Regions from separate parts of the Homo sapiens genome. Here region 2 is linked to region 1. Evidence: fine-mapped expression QTL. A gene starts in region 1. The other region holds a variant in brackets. All regions are shown on one strand. Distances are from middle to middle.

Region 1 (9,241 bases):
TTGTAAAATCTTACTCATTTTGTAAAATCGGGAAACTGATCCCCAAGAGGTGAAGGGACTTGACTGAAATAGCCCAATACTGAATCTCCTGCCTTCCAGGGCTCCTGCTGTACAAGCCTACAGGAGAGCATTTTATTGTATTTAATTTTTTTGAGATGGAGTCTTGCTATGTCACCTAGGCTGAAGTGCAGTGGCACGATCTTGGCTCACTGCAACCTTAGCCTCCCGGGTTCAAGCGATTCTTCTGCCTCAGCCTCCCGAGTAGCTGGGATTACAGGCACCCACCATCATGCCCGGTTGATTTTTGTATTTTTAGTAGAGATGAGGTTTCAGTATGTTAGCTAGGCTGGTCTCGAACTCCTGACCTCAAGTGATCTGCCCGCCTTGGCCTCCCAAAGTGTGGGATTACAGGTGTGAGAAACAGCTGATACTTTTGAATTTAGTACTGAATTCTATTAATCAACTGATGGCTTAAGCGAAGCCTGGTGGCCCAAGGAAACTGAGCTCGGAGAAAGTGTAAATGCTAGATGGTTCTTGCAAACATGGGTGTAAAGTAGCTAGCTGGTCATTGCTTAGATCTATTCTATGACAGCTGTTTAGAAGATGGTGGACTTTTTGTTTTTGTTTTTGGAGATGGAGTTTCGCTCTTGTTGCCTAGGCTGGAGTGCCATGGCACAATCTCAGCTCACTGCAACCTCCACCTCCCGGGTTCAAGTGATTCTCCTGCCTTAGCCTCCCAAGAAGCTGGGATTACAGGCATGCGCCACCATGCCCGGCTAATTTTGTTTTAGTAGAGATGGAGTTTCACCATGTTGGTCAGGCTGGTCTTGAACTCCTAACCTCAGGTGATCTGCCTGCTTTGGCCTCCCAAAGTGATAGTATTAAACGTTAGATAGTATCTAAACGATAGTGCTGGGATTACACGCGTGAGCCAGCATGCCCAGCCTTCTTCTTCTTCTTTTTTTTTTTAATAGAGACAGGGTCTCCCTATGTTGCCTAGGCTGGTCTGGAACTCCCGGACTCAAGCGATCCTCCCACCTCGGCCTCCCAAAGTGATAGTATTAAACGTGTGAGCCACCTCACCTAGCCAGATGGTGGACTATTCATTTCTATTTCCTTTCTGAGCCACTGCTGGGAAGTTAATTCCTTAGTTTTTTTAAAAAACTCTGCTTTATGTCTGAGCTATTCTACTCTAGCTAGAGCCACATATAACTTTCACCTGCATTCTTGGGTTTTTGGACAGAAGCTTTCTTTTCTTTTTATAACTGAGATCTCCATCAAGGAAAGATGACACCCTGAACCCCGTCCTACCCCCAAGGTTTATGCCTTTATCATCCTAAAGCATCCTATGTCCTATTAAATTTAGCTTTGAAGATAAGACCACAATATAAAGTAATAACAGGATAACCTGGTTTCTGAACCTTCCTGGGTGATAATGCCTGTATTTAAGTAAAGTCATGCACAGGTCTTTCCTTAAAAAACCGAGTCATAAGGGGAGAAAGTGCTTGGTTGCAGAATAAAACCCTTCCTGGACTCTTCTCCCTTTTTTCTTTTCTCTTCTCTTCTTCTCTTCTCTCTCTCTTTCTCTCTCTCTCTCTCTCCCCCTCCCTCCCTCCTTTCTTTTTTTTTTTTTTTTGGGGGTTGGGGATGGAGTCTCAGTCTGTCTCCCAGGCTGGAGCACAGTGGTGCGATCTCAGCCCACTGCAAGCTCTGCCTCCCGGGTTCAAGCGACTCTCCTGCCTCAGCCTCCTGAGTAGTTGGGATTAAAGGCGCATGCCACCACGCCCGGCTGATTTTTTTTTTGTATTTTTAGTAGAGACAGGGTTTCACCATGTTGGTCAGACTGGTCTCAAACTCCTGACCTTGTGATCCGCCCGCCTCAGCCTCCCAAAGTGCTGGGATTACAGGCGTGAGCCACTGTGCCCGGCCTTCTCCTTTTCTTTTTTTCCATTCCTTCAGCAGAAGGCCAAACCTTCTGTCTCTGCAAACAAAGCAACTGAGGCCTGAATTTTGAACTCATTTATGCAGAAGCCTCTGTAAGTTCCAGAATATAAAAGTTTATCTGTCCACTTTGGTCTGTGGCCATGTGAATTTATCTGACGGGTAGGGATATTTTTCAGCTGTGTAGGGATCTAACTGGTGAGGCGAGCTGAGTCATCCTGCCCATCAACCCCTGCTTTACGGATGATGGAATTTAGGCAAATCACTTCACTTCCCCATTTTCAATGTCAATGTAAAATCAAGGTAAATGTAAAAAAGGGAGTTGAACTAGACTCTGATGAGCTTAGATCTCTTCCTGCCCTAATAGTCTATACTTCTATGACAGCCTTTGACCGTCACTTGCTTTAATCCTTCTAAGCCCTTTGAAGGCAAGGCCGAAGAGTTGGTCTTCTTAAAGCTCTTAGGCCATATTTGTTAATTTCTGTGTACCATTAACTGGCTGCACAGTTATGGAAACCACAGAATCCTGAACTTCTAGAACTTCTATCATCTGTAAAGCATGGGTTGTCAGGGGAGTCTCTCAAGCCTTTTCCAACTTACAAAACTCGACAATTCTGAATGGGGGTTCCCGGCAGCCATCTTCCCTTCACCCTAGTGTTCTTCTGGAGGAAGTACAATGACACAATCCACGGGCAGTTTGGAGGATTTCCTAGTAGCATGTGGTTAAGTGTCCCCTTAAATAAATGAGTATTGGCCGGGTGCGGTAGCTCATGCCTATAATCCCAGCAATTAGGGAGGCCGAAGCAGGCAGATTACTTGAGCCCAGGAGTTTGAGACCAACCCGGGCAACATAGTGAGGCTGTGTCTCTACAAAAAAATTAAAAAATGAGGTGGGAGGATCGCTTGAGCCCGGGAGGTCGAGGCTGCAATGAGCAGAGATGACGCTACTGCACTCCCATGATGGGAGTGAGACCCTGCCTCTAAACAAATAAATAAGTAGGTATCTTGCCAAAGGCTTGGAAATCCGCTATCCTTGGGAGTTTCACTGTGATTTAATTTGTCGAGAGAAGATTTGGCCCGAGGGCATGAAAAAAATTGTATTATTGTAGACCATCAGAGTGTTATTCCAGGGTCAGCTAAGAGCAAGTTTCAAAACGCAGGCTCTGGATGGAAATGGGGTGGCTACTGTTGTAGGCAGACCTCGAGCAAAAGCACTGCGGATTTCTCTTCTTCTTAAAGGCGTAGCCCGGAGAACAGCTTTGACAAGTTGTTTCTGGCCCAAGTTGTCAAAACCAGTCTGTATTTGGCTAAAGTTCATCTGCATTCTCTATTTAAAAAAAATTTCCAAACCTAACCTGGATAGCTGCCTCACGATGTTGAATCACTGGCTACAACCGAGTCACCATTTTACAAGACTATGGTGTTGAAACCTGAGCCCCTAATTTAAGTGTCCTCCTCAGGAGTTCCACTGAGGAAAGTCCTTTTTCGGAAACCACAGAAGGAAAACTCAGGGTTAGTGGTACTCATTACACTGGAAGGAGCTTTTCCACTTGGCTGCATTGTTTATTTACACACTGTAAGTTCCTATTTTGGACACTCTTCCCTTAATTATGAGAAGAGGGGTTTCTATTATATCATCTGGCCGGATGTATTGTTGACCCCAAAAATGCCACATAACGGTGCTTGGGACATGGGGAGATGCATGGTTTAGAGATTTCAGCATAAGCACTTGGCATCTTTTTTACAAGCAAGACACCTATCTTACCATGATTTGCAAAAACAATCAGATCACTGAGAAATCTCATTCCCGGGGTAGAAACCATCTCCTGCGAGAAGGAGCTGGCACGGAGTGTCTAACCGTGCAAACAAAACCGGCTTCCAGGTTGACAAGTTGTAATTGCTCTTCCCCAGTTGGCTCCGGGGAGCTTTTTCTAAGACTGACGCCCCCCATGTTTGGTGACATTTTATATACGCCACCTAACAAACTTCTATGACCTGTCTTGCTAGGGTGGGGGGAATAAAAAGAAAAGACGACAACAACCTAGAAGGAAATAACCCATTTCCTCTGCAAAACCATCTTCCCTTGCTACGGAACTGCTTGGCGACACCAGCGCTTTCCTGCGGTTGGCAGCCCGGGAACCTTGAAGTTGCGCGGGACCGGCCGTCAGCCGCTGACAGTTCTGACAGTCCAGGTGGAGGACCCGCGCTCTGCCGGGAAATCCCCGGCTTCCCGCTGGGGACAAACGGTGGCCGCCGCAGGGAGTGCTGTGTTTGGGGGTCGGGGGAGGCAGGGAGCCCCACTTTCCCTCGCGCTGCCTCAGTGCCCGGCCTGCGTGCGCGCGCCAGCCTGGGGTAGGAAGGTACCTCTGACATTTCGCTCCTGCGACGCGCAGGCAACTTCATGCGGAAAATCCGCGGAGGGGCTGAGCCTGGAGCCCCCGACTCTTCCGACGTCCCGGAGCCCCCAACCCGGGGCAGGGGGCACTCAAAGGCCAGGCGTGCCTTTAGGTATCTTCCGGGACCCAACTGTACCAGGGTCACGGACATTCAACTCTCAGCTACCCACACCGGCGCGAGCGCGTCATCCCGGTGGCCCTGGGCATTCCTAACTGTCAGAGCGAATATTTTTGGGAATAACCTCTCCAAAATGTGAAGATGTTCAGTGGTCTCCTCCGCCTCCCATCACAAAAAAAGGCCCCAACACATATTTTTTAAAAAACAACCCACATCCCACAATCAAACTTTTAAACATGTAAAATAATAAACCAACTCACCAAGTTAGAAGGGAAGAGAATAAACCCCCAAAGGCTCCCAATAAGGCGGAGGCTTGGCCTCCCCCTCCTTATAAGCCGCTCGGTAACATGAGAAAAGGATTAACCCCTTAGGGGGCGGGCCCGACTCTAGCGCAAGTTGGCTCGGGCTGGTGAGGCCCGAGCGCCCGGGCCCTCCACCCACTCCCGCGACTCGGGCACCCGAGCCACACCCTCCCCCCGCCCCCCACCCCGGCCGCCTGCGACCCGGGCCGTGCGTGCTGCCGCCCGCGCCCCGGCCCCGCGTCGCTGCCTAGCTCTTATCCTATACCGGCTGCAGCCGGTCTCCGCCGGCCTCGGGGGCGCGCCGCCGCCGACCATGTGCTGCGAGCGCTGAGCGCAGCCAAGGAGGGGGCCTGCCTGGCGCGCGCGCGCCGTCCCACGTGGACCTGAGCCGCGCCGGTCGCGCGCCCGCCAGCCTGCCGCCTGGGCTGGGGGTCACGAAAGGTAACCGCGTCGCGGTCCGGGGCCGGGCCGCCCCCGCCAGCGCCGCCGGGGTCCTTGGCACAACGCCCCGATCTCCCAACCCGGGTGCGCCTCTGCGCGCGTGACCCGCCCAGACCCCGGAGCTTTGCTGCAACGCTAGTAGGAGCGCGAGCGTGCAGGGTGTTGGGGGTGCCTGCATCCTGTCTCGGAGCACCTCGGCCAGGCGCGAGCGCGCGGGTCCCCGTCCCCACCCCCGGGCGCCTTCCCGGCGCGCCCACCGCCCAGTCCCGCCCGCGCCCTGAGGATTTAGGGATTTAGCGGCGAGGGGGAACACGCGCGCGCCGGGGCTGATCCCGCGCGGCGCTCGCGGCTGCGGCGGCTTCGCGCCCGCCCCGGGCAGAACAGGTTCCTTCCAGTTTGGGTGTGAGCTGCGCGCGCGGCGCCTGAGTTCCTCCTGCAGCGCCCACTTCCCCCAGTTTCGTCAACTCGCGCACCCCCACAGTTCCCCTTCCGGCAGTGGGGAGGGAGTGTCGCAGTGGGCCCCAGGGAGCGAGCGGCCGGGCCGCTGCGGGTGCCTTGCTTCCCCCACTTTGCTGCACCGGCAGCAGCGGCAGCAACAGCATCCGCGTTGCGCGAAAGGAATGTGAGCAGCCGGGCTGAGTCAGCATCCCCGGCCCGGGGCGCGCGCGCACCCTCCAGGCAGTGGCGGCGTCGGCACAGGTGCATGGCTCCCATACCCGCGGGGAGCCCTCTGTAAGGGACCTGGAGGTTTAGACAGTCCGTGCCCCTCATCCCGTAGTCCCCGACCCCAAGGTCACCGTGAACTAAGCGGATGATGCACGCGAAATCTCAGGAGCTCCTCATGGGGACAAAGCATGTGTCAGATCCTAGACATTTCAGAGCCTGCGGGGGCGCAAACTTAGCTTCTTGGTCTCTACCTCACATCCCGAGGGCAAATTTGGAAACTGCTCGGAAGCAAAGGCCATGTTATTTGCATTCGTATGCAGACTTTGGCGCCGGCTGCTGCCTTCATTGGGGTTCGGAGAATGTGGTTCTGATGTCAGAAACTCAAGAGAGCCTAGTTTGGGAGTGCATGCACGGAGGGTCGCCACCGGGAGGAGTCGGCGATCTGAATTTTAATAAAAATCCTTCCTTGCTCGCTGAGTTCTCTCACCATTTTGGGATAGGCTCTCCTGAGTTAAATGCCATCCTTTGCCGTTGACAAGTTCTGGTTGTGTAAGTGGGGAGAAGATTCGTTGGTACAGGGTGCCTTGTATGGCCAGTAGTGTACAGCCAAGGGGCCGCTGAGCAGCTTTGCAACCTTGTAGGCGTAATTTAACCTCGTAGAGCGTTAATTTCTCCAGATCTGTAAAATGGGGATGGAGGTGGTATTCCCAGAATTGGAGGGTTTAATTTATGGTACTTGTAAAGTGCGGATCGCAGTGACTGGCATTTGGTAAGGCCTCAGTACCCATTAGCTCTTGCTGCTGTTACGATTTATGCTTTACCAAGGCCAATTAATTGCTGACTCCAACACACTCCCTGTGAGAGAGAGCCCTTTTTTGAGTTGTTCTTCAAAGGATCCATATATAATGATATTTAGAAACTGATTTGAACACTTCATGCTAATGCAGGGCTGCCTGTAAGATAATCTTTGATATTTAGGATCTTACACTTTAATACTTAGGACCTGTTACTGTACTCTATATGGAAATATCATGTGCAATATGACAGCATATTCTGTATGTCTTAGGAACCTAAAGGTGCAGCCAGCCATTTATACCTGAGTGACTCGAAGCAAGTCACATAAAATCTCTGTACTTCAGTCTCTTGATTTAAAAAATGACTCAAATTATACCTAAATCCTCAGGAGTGAATGAATGATTGGAAAAATCACATCTGAATGTTTGAGCAAGTGAAACCTGGCTTTTGGGGAGCATGATTCTAATAATAATAATAATAATAATAATAGATTTTTGTTACTAATGTGTTACTATTCTTATATTTTATTAATATTAATCTTTTTTAAATGTTTGCTTTGTCCTCAACACTGCATTAAGTGCCATACATGTAATGCAATGTTAACCGCATCAGTAACCTTCTGTAGTTGACACTCATTATTCCCATTTTACAGATGAGGAAAGTGGAGGCACTGAGCACTGGAGGGATTGACCTAAGGTTACACCATGTTTATAGATACACACTAGCACTTTTTACCACTAGAGCTCATCCAAAGATGACATTTGCCATCTGTGTTTGAATAATGGAGAGGTAGCTGGAAACCCAACCTACGCACAGCCTTGCTAGTCACAAAAAAGTCACGCAACATGACTTTTGCCCACCCTAGTTAGAGGCTGGCTTCACCTTGTTCCCTCAATCCTAGTGAGACCAAGCGTGAAAACCCCTGCTTTTTTAACTTCTCCAGAGAAAGCACTGCATTGCCATGCTAATCAACGCCCCCTTGCCCCCAAACAAAACTAACTCTGTTTAGTTCTAAATAAGAACAAAAGAACCTTTGGAGTCTGGAGTACAGGACCAGAAAAATCAGGAAATCAAGTGAAGGGCTCAGCTCCCCTCTTAGCCTCTCCTGTTGTGTCTGCCTGATCCCAAGTGGCAGGCAGAGCCCCCTCTCGGCTTTCCTTTACAGTGGGCAAGACCATCATGATGCCCTTAAGAAGACCCCCAACATCTTCTTGGGGAAAAAGTTGGCTCTTCAGAGCTGTCCCCAAGGCTCCCTCTTTTAGCCCTCTTGCATAGGGTCATTTGCATGAGAACAGATTCCTTTGTGTAAAGTTGGCCTGCCTGTTCTCTGTCCACGTTTATAGTCCTTCAAGTCTTCGTGTTGGGTTGCTAGGCAGATATGACCCTGGCTTGCAAATAAGCTCACTGCATTTACCAGCCTGTGAGAACTTCAACTTGGGTAAGTAGACTGAAAGGAATCTGGTCTGGACCTCTGGGAAGAGGGTCCCGCAAGCCTGCTTTTGGGGGCTGACTCTTCAGGGCAGCCATCAAAGGGGGAGAATATGTGAAGGGGGCTTCCATGGGAGGCTTCGATGGCCCACCCACCCTTCCATTCTTCCTCTTCCAGTCTCTGTTCCACCCACCATGCTCCCACCCAGGGGCTTGTGTTCTGGGCAAGTGACTTGTATGCCACTGAAGCAATTTCTTGCTTTAAAACTTTAATATCTGCTTCTCCAATTGGCCAGGAACTTCACACACTCTGCCATCTAGCAACAGTGAACCGATGGTACAGGTAGTTCTGCTAGGTTTATTTTGTGATTTGGGTTCCTCCCCCGCAGCACCCCGCCAAATTTCACAGTTTGTAGGAAGGCAGGGCCCTTCAAACTGGGAAACACACACTTCTGGGAGAATTTAAAGATTTGCCAAGGGGTTCTGAGGCACAGATAGTGATGACGATGATAATAATAATACTACAGAGTTGTGTGCATGGCTTAGTACAGTTGCTAAGTTAACTGAATTAACACGTGCAAGGGGCTTAGCACTGGGATTGGCTCATGGTCAGGTTCCCTAACTCTTGGCTGCGACTCTTTCAACCTGTGAGTCCTGGGGGATTGAGGAGGATGGCGATCAGGGAAGCCTTCAACTGGCAGAGAGGACCTTGGGAGAACTGGCAAGGGGTGCTGAGCCAAGGGAGAGGTGAACAGCATGAGAAGAAGGTAGGAGGTAGGTGAGGCCATTCTGTATTTGGGGACAGTGAGGTCACCTTCCCACTCGTGTGTGTGGGCGGCCGATGATTGATTTCTGTCATACCTGTTACCATTTGGTGCAGTATCGATGTATCGTTGGTGTCTGTCATTAACTCTGAAGTAACTTTTACTTGATCAGTACTGAATTTCATTCCTAGGCTTCTCAGTCTTCATAGTTGACTGCTCCTGTAGTTTTGCCATTTATTACTGCTTAAAAATTAAAAAAAAAAATAGAGAACATAGCCTCCGGGAGGCTTCTATAAATTATCTCAAGCCTGTTGCAAAAGTCCTAGAAAACAAACCCAGGCTGAGTGTGATAATCCTAGTGCTTTTGGCATGAAGGCAGGAGGATTGCTT
Region 2 (9,241 bases), 22 kb after region 1:
TGGAGTTTGTTCCTTCTGATGTTCAGATGTGTTCGGAGTTTCTTCCTTCTGGTGGGTTCATGGTCTCACTGGCTCAGGAGTGAAGCTGCAGACCTTCACGGTGAGTGTTACAGTTCTTAAGGCGGTGCGTCTGGAGTTGTTCGTTCCTCCCGGTGGGCTCGTGGTCTCGCTGGCTTCAGGAGTGAAGCTGCAGACCTTCATGGTGAGTGTTACAGCTCATAAAAGCAGTGTGGACCCAAAGAGTGAGCAGTAGCAAGATTTATTGCAGAGAGCGAAAGAACAAAGCTTCCACAGTGTGGAAAGGGACCTGAGCGGGTTGCCACTGCTGGCTCGGGCAGCCTGCTTTTATTCTCTTATCTGGCCCCACCCACATCCTGCTGATTGGTAGAGCTGAGTGGCCTGTTTTGACAGGGTGCTGATTGGTGTGTTTACAAACCTTGAGCTAGATACAGAGTGCCGATTGGTGTATTTACAATCCCTGAGCTAGACATAAAGGTTCTCCAAGGCCCCACCAGACTCAGGAGCCCAGCTGGCTTCACCCAGTGGATCCCGCACCGGCGCTGCAGGTGGAGCTGCCTGCCAGTCCCGCGCCCTGCGCCTGCACTCCTCAGCCTTTGGGTGGTCGATGGGACTGGGCGCTGTGGAGCAGGGGGTGGTGCTCGAGGAGGCTCGGGCCGCACAGGAGCCCACGGAGGGGGTGGGAGGCTCAGGCATGGCGGGCTGCAGGTCCCGAGCCCTGCCCCACAGGAAGGCAGCTAAGGCTCGGTGAGAAATCGAGTGCAGTGCTGGTGGGCTGGCCCTGCTGAGGGACCTAGTACACCCTCCGCAGCTGCTGGCCCGGGTTCTAAGCCCCTCATTGCCCGGGGCCCGCAGGGCCAGCTGGCTGCTCCGAGTGCGGGGCCCGCCAAGCCCACGCCCACCCGGAACTCCAGCTGGCCCACAAGCGCAGCACGCAGCCCCAGTTCCCGCTCGCGCCTCTCCCTCCACACCTCCCTGCAAGCCGAGGGAGCCGGCTCTCGCCTTGGCCAGCCTAGAAAGGGGATCCTACAGTGCAGCGGTGGGCTGAAGGGCTCAAGTGCCACCAAAGTGGGAGCCCAGGCAGAGGAGGCGCCGAGAGCGAGCGAGGGCTGTGAGGACTGCCAGCACGCTGTCACCTCTCAGGAGGATCACTGGAGCCCAGGAGTTCAAGGTTGCAGTGAGCTATGATTGTGCCACTGCACTCCAGTGTGGGTCACAGAGCGAGACTCTGTCTCTTAAAAAATAAGTAAATAGGCTGGGTGCAGTGGCTCACGCCTGTAGCACTTTGGGAGGCTGAGGCAGGTGGATCACCTGAGGTCAAGAGTTCGAGACTAGCCTGGCCAACCTGCCGAAACCCTCTCTCTACTAAAAATACAAAATGTAGCCGGGCGCAGTGGCAGGCACCTGTGACCCCAGCTACTCGGGAGGCTGAGGCAGGAGAATCACTTGAACCTGGGAGGCAGAGGTTGCAGTGAGCTGAGATCGCACCACTGCACTCCAGCCTGGGCAATAAGAGTGAGACTCTGTCTAAAAAAAAATAAATAAAATAAAAAAGTAAATAAATAAAGAAAGAAAGGGAAATAAGAATTATAAGCAAATAGCTTCTGAGCCCACATCCAGAGTTTTTTGTTTGTTTGTTTGTTTTGTTGTGTTTTTTTTTTGAGATGGAGTTCCGCTCTTGTTGCCCAGGTTGGCGTGCAGTGGCACGATCTCAGCTCACTGCAACCTCCATCTCCCGGGTTCAAGCGATTCTCCTGCCTCAGCCTCCCGAGTAGCTGGGATTACAGGTGTGTGCCACCTGGGGAGAAACCCCAGAGATCGGGTTTCTCCATGTTGGTTAGTCTGGTCTCAAACTCCCAACCTCAGGTGATCCGCCCGTCTCGGCCTCCCAAAATGCTGGGATTACAAGCGTGAGCCACCACACCCAGCCCCAACATCCAGAGTTTTTGGAGAACAGAAGCGAGGGTGTGGAACCCAACCTGGGGTTTCAAGGGAGGAGATGGCCTTTGAAGAGCAAAAGAGAGTCTGTGAGGCGTGGGAGATGTGACTCACTTATTTATGAAAGGCGTGGCTTACACTTAAGGCATACTGAACTCTAAGGGACCACAAAAGAGGAGCCTATGCATCTGATGAGTTGAAGTGTTTAGAAAACAGCTATTGCAGATTTTTGTTAAAACACCCAGCTCCTTTCCCTTCTTAGATGGAGAACAAGCGTTAGAGCTTTCAGACTTCAGGATTTTCTTCTTGGGCTAACATTGGTCTGATTGTCCAGCTCGGATTCTGTCTGCACTGGGCGAAACTCCTCCATGTGGTTCGGGGGGAATCATTTCAGCTCACCGCTTAGGATGACGCATAGGGCATCTCCACAGAGTTTTGGCCACTTGCATCCTAGAGCTTGATGCTTTTCCTGAGATACGCGCCCTTGGTGGGTGGTAGTTTCTGCATCTGGTCTCACCCACTCCAGTTCTTCCTCACCTCCATCAAGGTGAACTTTGTAGAAACACTCTTCTGCTTCCAGTCCTTCAAAGACATTTTTTAGCCCTAAGGATAAAACCCATACCCCATACCACAGCTAACAAACTGGAGTTTGGCTGGGTGTGGTGGCTCACGCCTGTAATTCCAGCACTTTAGGAGGCCAAGGTGGGCACATCACTTGACAGGAGTTCAAGACCAGCCTGGCCAACATGGCGAAATCCCATCTCTACTGAAAATGCAAAAATTAGCCAGATGTGGCGGTGCACGGGAGAACCTGGGAGACAGAGGTTGCAGTGATCTGAGATTGCACTGCTGCACTCCAGCCCGGGCAACAGACTGAGACTCTGTCTCAAAACAAACAAACAAAACCAACAAAACCCCAAACTGATTTCTTCTCCACTCTTCTCTCTTGCAGTGGTCTTTGGATGAGCCCTCCCTTCATCTGTGTGATGGGTTCATCCTGGTGCACTCTCCACTTCCTCTGTTTAATTAGTTTCTACTCACTACTTAGGTCTCAGTTGTACACGAGGGCCTCAGGAAAGCTTTCGTGGATGCCTCGGGTGTTCTGTGATGGTCCTTGCTGCTTTCTGTGGTGGCTGTTCAATCATCTGACCACTACATTGGGTTGAATAGCATCCTCCCTAAATTCATGTCCATCTAGAACCTCAGAATGTGACCATATTTGGAAACAGGGTCTTTGCAAATGTTATTAATTAAGGCTCTCGATGATCTCAGAATCGATTTAGGGTGGGTCCTAAATCCAGTGACATTTCCTTATAAGAAGAGGAGAAGACACAGGGACACACAGAGAGAGATGGTGACGTGAAGATGGAGGCAGAGATTGGAGCCATGCCTCTACAAGCCAGGAACACCAAGGACCGCTGGCAACCAGCAGAACAAGGAGAGAGGCATGGAACAGATTCTCCCTCAGAGCCTCCAGAAGGTACCAGCCCGGCCGACATCTTGATTTCAGACTTTTAGCCTCCTGTACTGTACTTTTTTTTTTTTTTTTTTTTGACGGAGTCTTGCTCTGTCGCCCAGGTTGGAGTGCAGTAGTGCGATCTTGGCTCACTGCAACCTCCACCTCCCAGGTTCAAGCGATTCTCCAGCCTCAGCCTCCCAAGTAGCTGGGATTACAAGCATCTGCTGCCATGCCTGGCTAATTTTTGTATTTTTGTAGAGATGGGGTTTCACCATGTTGGCTAGGCTACTCTCGAACCCCTGACCTCAAGTGATCCACTCGCCTTGGCCTCCCAAAGTGCTGCGATTACAGGTCTGAGCCACCACGCCTGGCCTGTACTGTTGTTTTAAGCCACACAGCTTGTGGTAATTTGTTATGGCAGCCACAGAAAACTTACACACCTCCCTCCTAGCTCTGGACTTCAGGAAGAAAAATGCCTCATCTGTTCTTTCCCGCTTATATTCCTAGCATGTAACACAGTGCTTGGTACGTAGTGGGCAATTAATAAATATTTGTTCATCAATAAATGGGCTCTAGGAGCTCAAGATGCCCTGGAATGTCACCCCAAATTTTGCATGTAGGAATACTTTTCTGGGGAGAGAGTTCATCCATTCATGAACATTTACCAGATTCTCC[A/G]AAGGGCGTGGGTTGCCAAATGCTTAGGAACTTCCGCTTTCAGTGTTTAGCAGGTTAGCGGGGAAATATTAGTCCCATTATTTAAGCTGAGATTTGCGAGGCCTACACGTTTTTTTTTTCTCATGTGCTGTCTCTACTGTCACACTCTCATCCTGAGCAGAAAGGAGGACTCAGGGGTCAGATGCCAAATGTGGTTCGTTGGGCTCTCCTTCTCCCCACCCCCTTATGAAAGTGTTTCTTTCCATCTGAGCCTTGTGACAGTGGCCAGGTGGCTAGCCCTCTGGCCTGAGGTCGACGGCTTTTCATTCTTCTTTGTTGACAGGAAAGCCGGGCTTCCTGTGAGGCCATGAACTGATTCATCGCTGGTTTCTCCCACTGCCTACTCACGGCCAGTGGGGAACCATGACTTTCAGACACGAACTCTTATTGCCCAACAGGGTCTGGGGTGACTAGCTGGGACTGCACGCTCAAGCCACCACGCCCGGTTCTGTTGCCTCCTTTTTATTTGTGCATGAATTTTCTAGGACTGCTGGAACAAATTACTCCAAACTGGACAGCTTAAAATGTTACTTTGTTCTGGCCAGGCACAGTGGCTCACACCTGTAATCCCAGCACTTTGGGAGGCCGAGGCGGGCAGATCACGAGGTCAGGAGATCAAGACCATCCTGGCTAACGTGGTGAAACGCTGTCACTACTAAAAATACAAAAAATTAGCCGGGCATGGTGGCAGGTGCCTGTAGTCCCAGCTACTCAGGAGGCTGAGGCAGGAGAATGGCGTGAACCCGGGAGGCAGAGATTGCAGTGAGCCGAGATTGCGCCACTGCACTCCAGCCTGGGTGACAGAGTGAGACTCCATCTCAAAAAAAACAAAAATAAAAACAAAAAAACATTACTTTGTCCTTTCACAGTTCGGAGAGCCAGAAGTCCAAAATCAAGGTTATGACTGAAGGCTCTGACAGAGAATCCATTCCTTGCCTCTCTCCTGGATTCTGGTGCCTGCTGGAATCCTTGGCATTCTGGGCTTCTAGACTCCTATCTCCGCCTCAGTTGTTATGAGGCGTTCTTTCATGCCAGTGTCCAGACTCCCCTCCTCTAATAAAAATACCAGTCTTTGGATTGAAGGCCCACCCTACTCCAGTATGACCTCATCTTAACTTAATGACATCTGCGAAGACGCTATCTCCAAATAAGGTCACGTCACAGGTTCTGGATTGATATGAAATTGAGGGGAACGCTGTTCAGTCTGGTGCAATTAGCTGTATTACGTATCTCTCTCTCTCTCTTTTTTTTTTTTTTGAGACACAGTTTCACTCTGTTGCCCAGGCTGGAGTGCAGTGGTGCAATCTTGGCTCACTGCAACCTCCGCCTCCGGGTTCAAGCGATTCTCCTGCCTCGGCCTTCTGAGTAGCTGGAATTACAGGCACCTGCCACTACGCACGGCTGATTTTTGTATTTTTAGTAGAGACGGAGTTTTGCCATGTTGGCCAGGCTGGTCTTGAACTCCTGACCTCAAGTGATTCACCTGCCTTGGCCTCCCAAAGTGCTGGGATTACAAGCGTGAGCCACCATGCCTGGCCTACATATCTCTTTTTACTCCGCTTCTAACGCAGTCTATAATGTAGTAGGTGGTCAGTCAGTATCTGTCGCATTAAAGACTAAATGTCATGCTTAAGAGGGCAGGAGCCAGACAGTTTGAGCTCAAATCCCAGCTCTGCCACTTCCTATCTGTGGCCCCGGGCAAACTGCATCATCCCCTGGAGTTTTGCTTTCCTCTTCTGTAAGTGGGGACAATGATAGCACCTCTACCTCACAGGATGTTGTGAGGGTTAAATTAAGTAATCTGGGCCGGGCACAGTGGCTCACACCTGTAATCCCAGCACTTTGGGAGGCCGAGGCAGATGGATCACCTGAGGTCAGGAGTTTGAGACCAGCCTGACCAACAAGAAGAAACCCCATCTCTACTAAAAATACAAAAGTAGCCAGGCGTGGCGGCACATGCTTGTAATCCCAGCTACTCGGGAGGCTGAGGCGGGAGAATCATTTGAACCCGGGAGGCGGAAGTTGCAGTGAGCTGAGATTGCGCCATTGTACTCCAGCCTGGGCAACAGAGCAAGACTCCATCTCAAAAAAAAAAAAAAAAAAAATTAAGTAATCTGTAAACCAGGTGTGGTGTTGCACATCTGTGGTCCCAGCTACTCCAGAGGCTGAAGCACACGGATCCCTTAATGCCAGGAGTTCAAGGCTGCAGTGAGCTATGATCATGCCATTGTACTCCAGCCTGGACAACAGAGTGTCTCATAAAAAAAATAAAAAATAAAAAATTAAGTAATCTGTGTAATCAGTTAGCATAGAGCCTAGCATACAATAGATAGGGTTCTATGTTAGCTATGGTTATTTTTGTTATTGTTACTAGAAATGTCCAAATGGAATGTCAGTGTGAATTGGCTAATCTGCATGATAAAAGGTCCAGTGACAAAACTTGGAAGGATGAGGTGGAGTTCCAGTGACAAATTCCTGTTAATCCCTATGCTGGCTGTGCATTGGGGCCAACACCTTTATTTGAATCAACACAACAGCTGCAACAATCACTAACCCTTACCAAGCTCTTGCAAGGTGCCAGGCTCTAGGCATTACCCTGGCTAATTCTTGGTACCACCCTACTTTTCTCTTATATCTCAGATGAGGAAATTGAGGTTAAGTAACACGCCCAGAGTTGGTGAGTGGCCAAGCCAATATTCAAACTCAGATTTCCTCATTCTAGAGCCTTATTCTTTCAGGGCTGGGCAGAACTGGGGAATCAGCAAAGAGAATCCATCAAGATTTGGCCAGCTTTCCCATATGGCTGTCAAAGAGCAGGAGGCCAGGCGTGGTGGTTCACATCTGTAATTCCAGTACTTTGGGAGATCGAGGCGGAAGGATTGCTTGAGCTCAGGAGTTTGAGAGCAGCCTGGGCAACATAGCAAGACTTCATCTCTACAAAAAAATCAATAAATTAGCTGGGCGTGGTCCTACCTACTCCGGAGGCGGAGTCAGGAGGATTGCTTGAGCCCAGGAGGTTGAGGCCACAGTGAGCTATGATCGTGTCACTGCACTCCAGCCTGGGTGATGGAGTGAAATCCTGTCTCAAAAAAAAAAGGAGATTGGAATCTCATCATTTTTTTTCTCCCTTTGGTGCTAATGAAGGATTTTTGTGCTGTCCAAGCATAAGAGGCAACCTGAGAAATGGGATTGTATTTAGTTATTTATTTTAAGATGAAGTCTTGCTCTATCGCCTAGGCTGGAGTGCAGTGGCGCGATCTTGGCTCACTATAACCTCTGCCTCCCAGGTTCAAGTGATTCTCCTGCCTTAACCTCTCGAGTAGCTGGGACTACAAGTGTGTGCCACCATACCTGGCTAATTTTTGTATTTTTAGTAGAGACAGCATTTCACCATGTTGGCCAGGCTGATCTTGAACTCGACCTCAGGTGATCCACCTGCCTCGGCCTCCCAAAGTGCTGGGATTACAAAGTGCGTGGGTGGCACCCAGGCAGAAATGGGATTTAGATGTCAGTCATCAAAATGGTTGATGCAACCATCGTTCAGGAGGCTCACCCAGCCAGGGATGTGTGATGGCTGCAGTTTCAGGTGCCTGCAATCTTATCCTGCCTACTCCAGCTTCATCTCCAACCCTCTCCTCATGTTCCTCACATTGCACATGTTTCTGTTCCTTGAACATATGCTTTTCCCTGCCTCAGGGCCTTTGCACTGGCTGTTGCCTCTTATTGGCGAGGTCTCTCCTCAGGCTTCAAGCAGCTGATCGCTTCTCATCCTTCTGGCCTCCACTCAAATACCATGTCCTCAGAGAGGCCTTTCCTGACCGTGCTCTCCAACATTGCCTTCCTACCCCATGCACATCTCCTACCCATTCTCCTGTTCTGTTTCCATGACCTGTATCACTGTTGAAATGATCTTCTTTGTTTACTTCTTTGTTGCCTGTCTCTCCCACTGGAATATTGCCTCCTTACAGCAGCCTCCTTATCTGTCTTATTTATGTCTTCAGTGGCTAAAACAATGCCTGGCACATGGTAGGTGCTCAAACAATAATTGTTCACGTACTTGGATTCCTGGATCTAAACTTCTAGGTGTGCACACATGGGTTGACCCGAGCATGAGAGCTGGAACTAGACTGCCTTGGTCTGTTACTTGCTAGCTCTGGGACACTGTGCTAGTTATTAAACCTTGCTGGACCTTAGTATGCTTATCTCTGCAATGGGAAAATAATGGCACCTACATCACAGGGCTATGGTGAGGAGGAAATAAGTTAGGTCATATAAGGCAGCAAAAGGGTCCCTGGCATGTATTGGTGCTTGATGGGTGCTAGCTCTTATGATTCCCTATGACACCGGCCCTGCTCCCCTGTTCGTCACAATTCCCTCCTCTGGCTGGAGGGTGAGGCCTGTTTTCTCAGCGTCTGTTCCAAAAGCACCTTGCTCTATCTATTCCCAGACTCTCACCCTTCCCCAGGTTGAGCTGTAGGACTCATCTGGCTTCTTAGAATCTGCTTGTTTCTTCTCATTCCTAGACCAAATCCCCAAGTCAACACCTAAAGGTCTCAGTAACATTTCCCTTTTAGTTTGTGGCCAGCGCACACGATTCGTTTTTTGTTTGTTTTTAACCTGGTTGCAGGAGATGTGATTTGCCCATTTTTGCACAGAAAGGGCACCATCCGTACCACAATTATGATGTCGTTATTTGTTAAAGGAAGAAAGGAATCTGGGGGAAGAAAAGCAGAATCTTTCGGTGACTTCATATTTTGGTATCCCTTTTCAGACTTCTAAACTCTATTTACATGGAGATAAAATAGGGATTATGGCCTAAAATCCCACAGCCTTAAGCCCATTTACAGTAGCCCAGGTCAAAGAGCATTCATGTCACCATATCCCTTTGGGAGAAACTGAGGCCGAGAGAGACGAAGTGTTTTTACTGTTATAATCAGCTCTCTGCCATGTGGGGGTCGATTATGTGGTTTGTGGGTTTGCTAGCTCAAAGATTGACTACATGAAAAATAATGATGAACTGTTTTGTTTTTTTTTTTTTGTATGTGAAAAACCCAAAGCTACTGCAAATCAGCAAACATCTCTTTATCAGAGGGCGTTGTCGTTTAGGGCCCC

The links. PIP is the estimated chance that this variant, and not a neighbour inherited with it, causes the effect.
Region 2: its variant is fine-mapped to the expression of ARSG in whole blood (TOPMed, PIP above 0.99).

The regions. Positions count from the first base shown.
Region 1 is chr17:68,286,371-68,295,611 of GRCh38, forward strand. It overlaps ARSG (arylsulfatase G), which reads left to right and starts at 5,125. Exons shown (of 12, transcript NM_001267727.2): 1 at 5,125-5,198. SLC16A6 (solute carrier family 16 member 6) reads right to left here and starts at 4,757. Exons shown (of 6, transcript NM_004694.5): 1 at 4,716-4,757. RefSeq lists silencers at 4,893-5,582, 4,949-5,123 and an enhancer at 5,983-6,212.
Region 2 is chr17:68,308,312-68,317,552 of GRCh38, forward strand. All of the region lies in intron 2 of ARSG (arylsulfatase G), which reads left to right. Among named protein-coding and RNA genes, the nearest start is that of ARSG, 21 kb to the left of the region's middle. The variant A/G (reference allele first, on the strand shown) is at 4,091.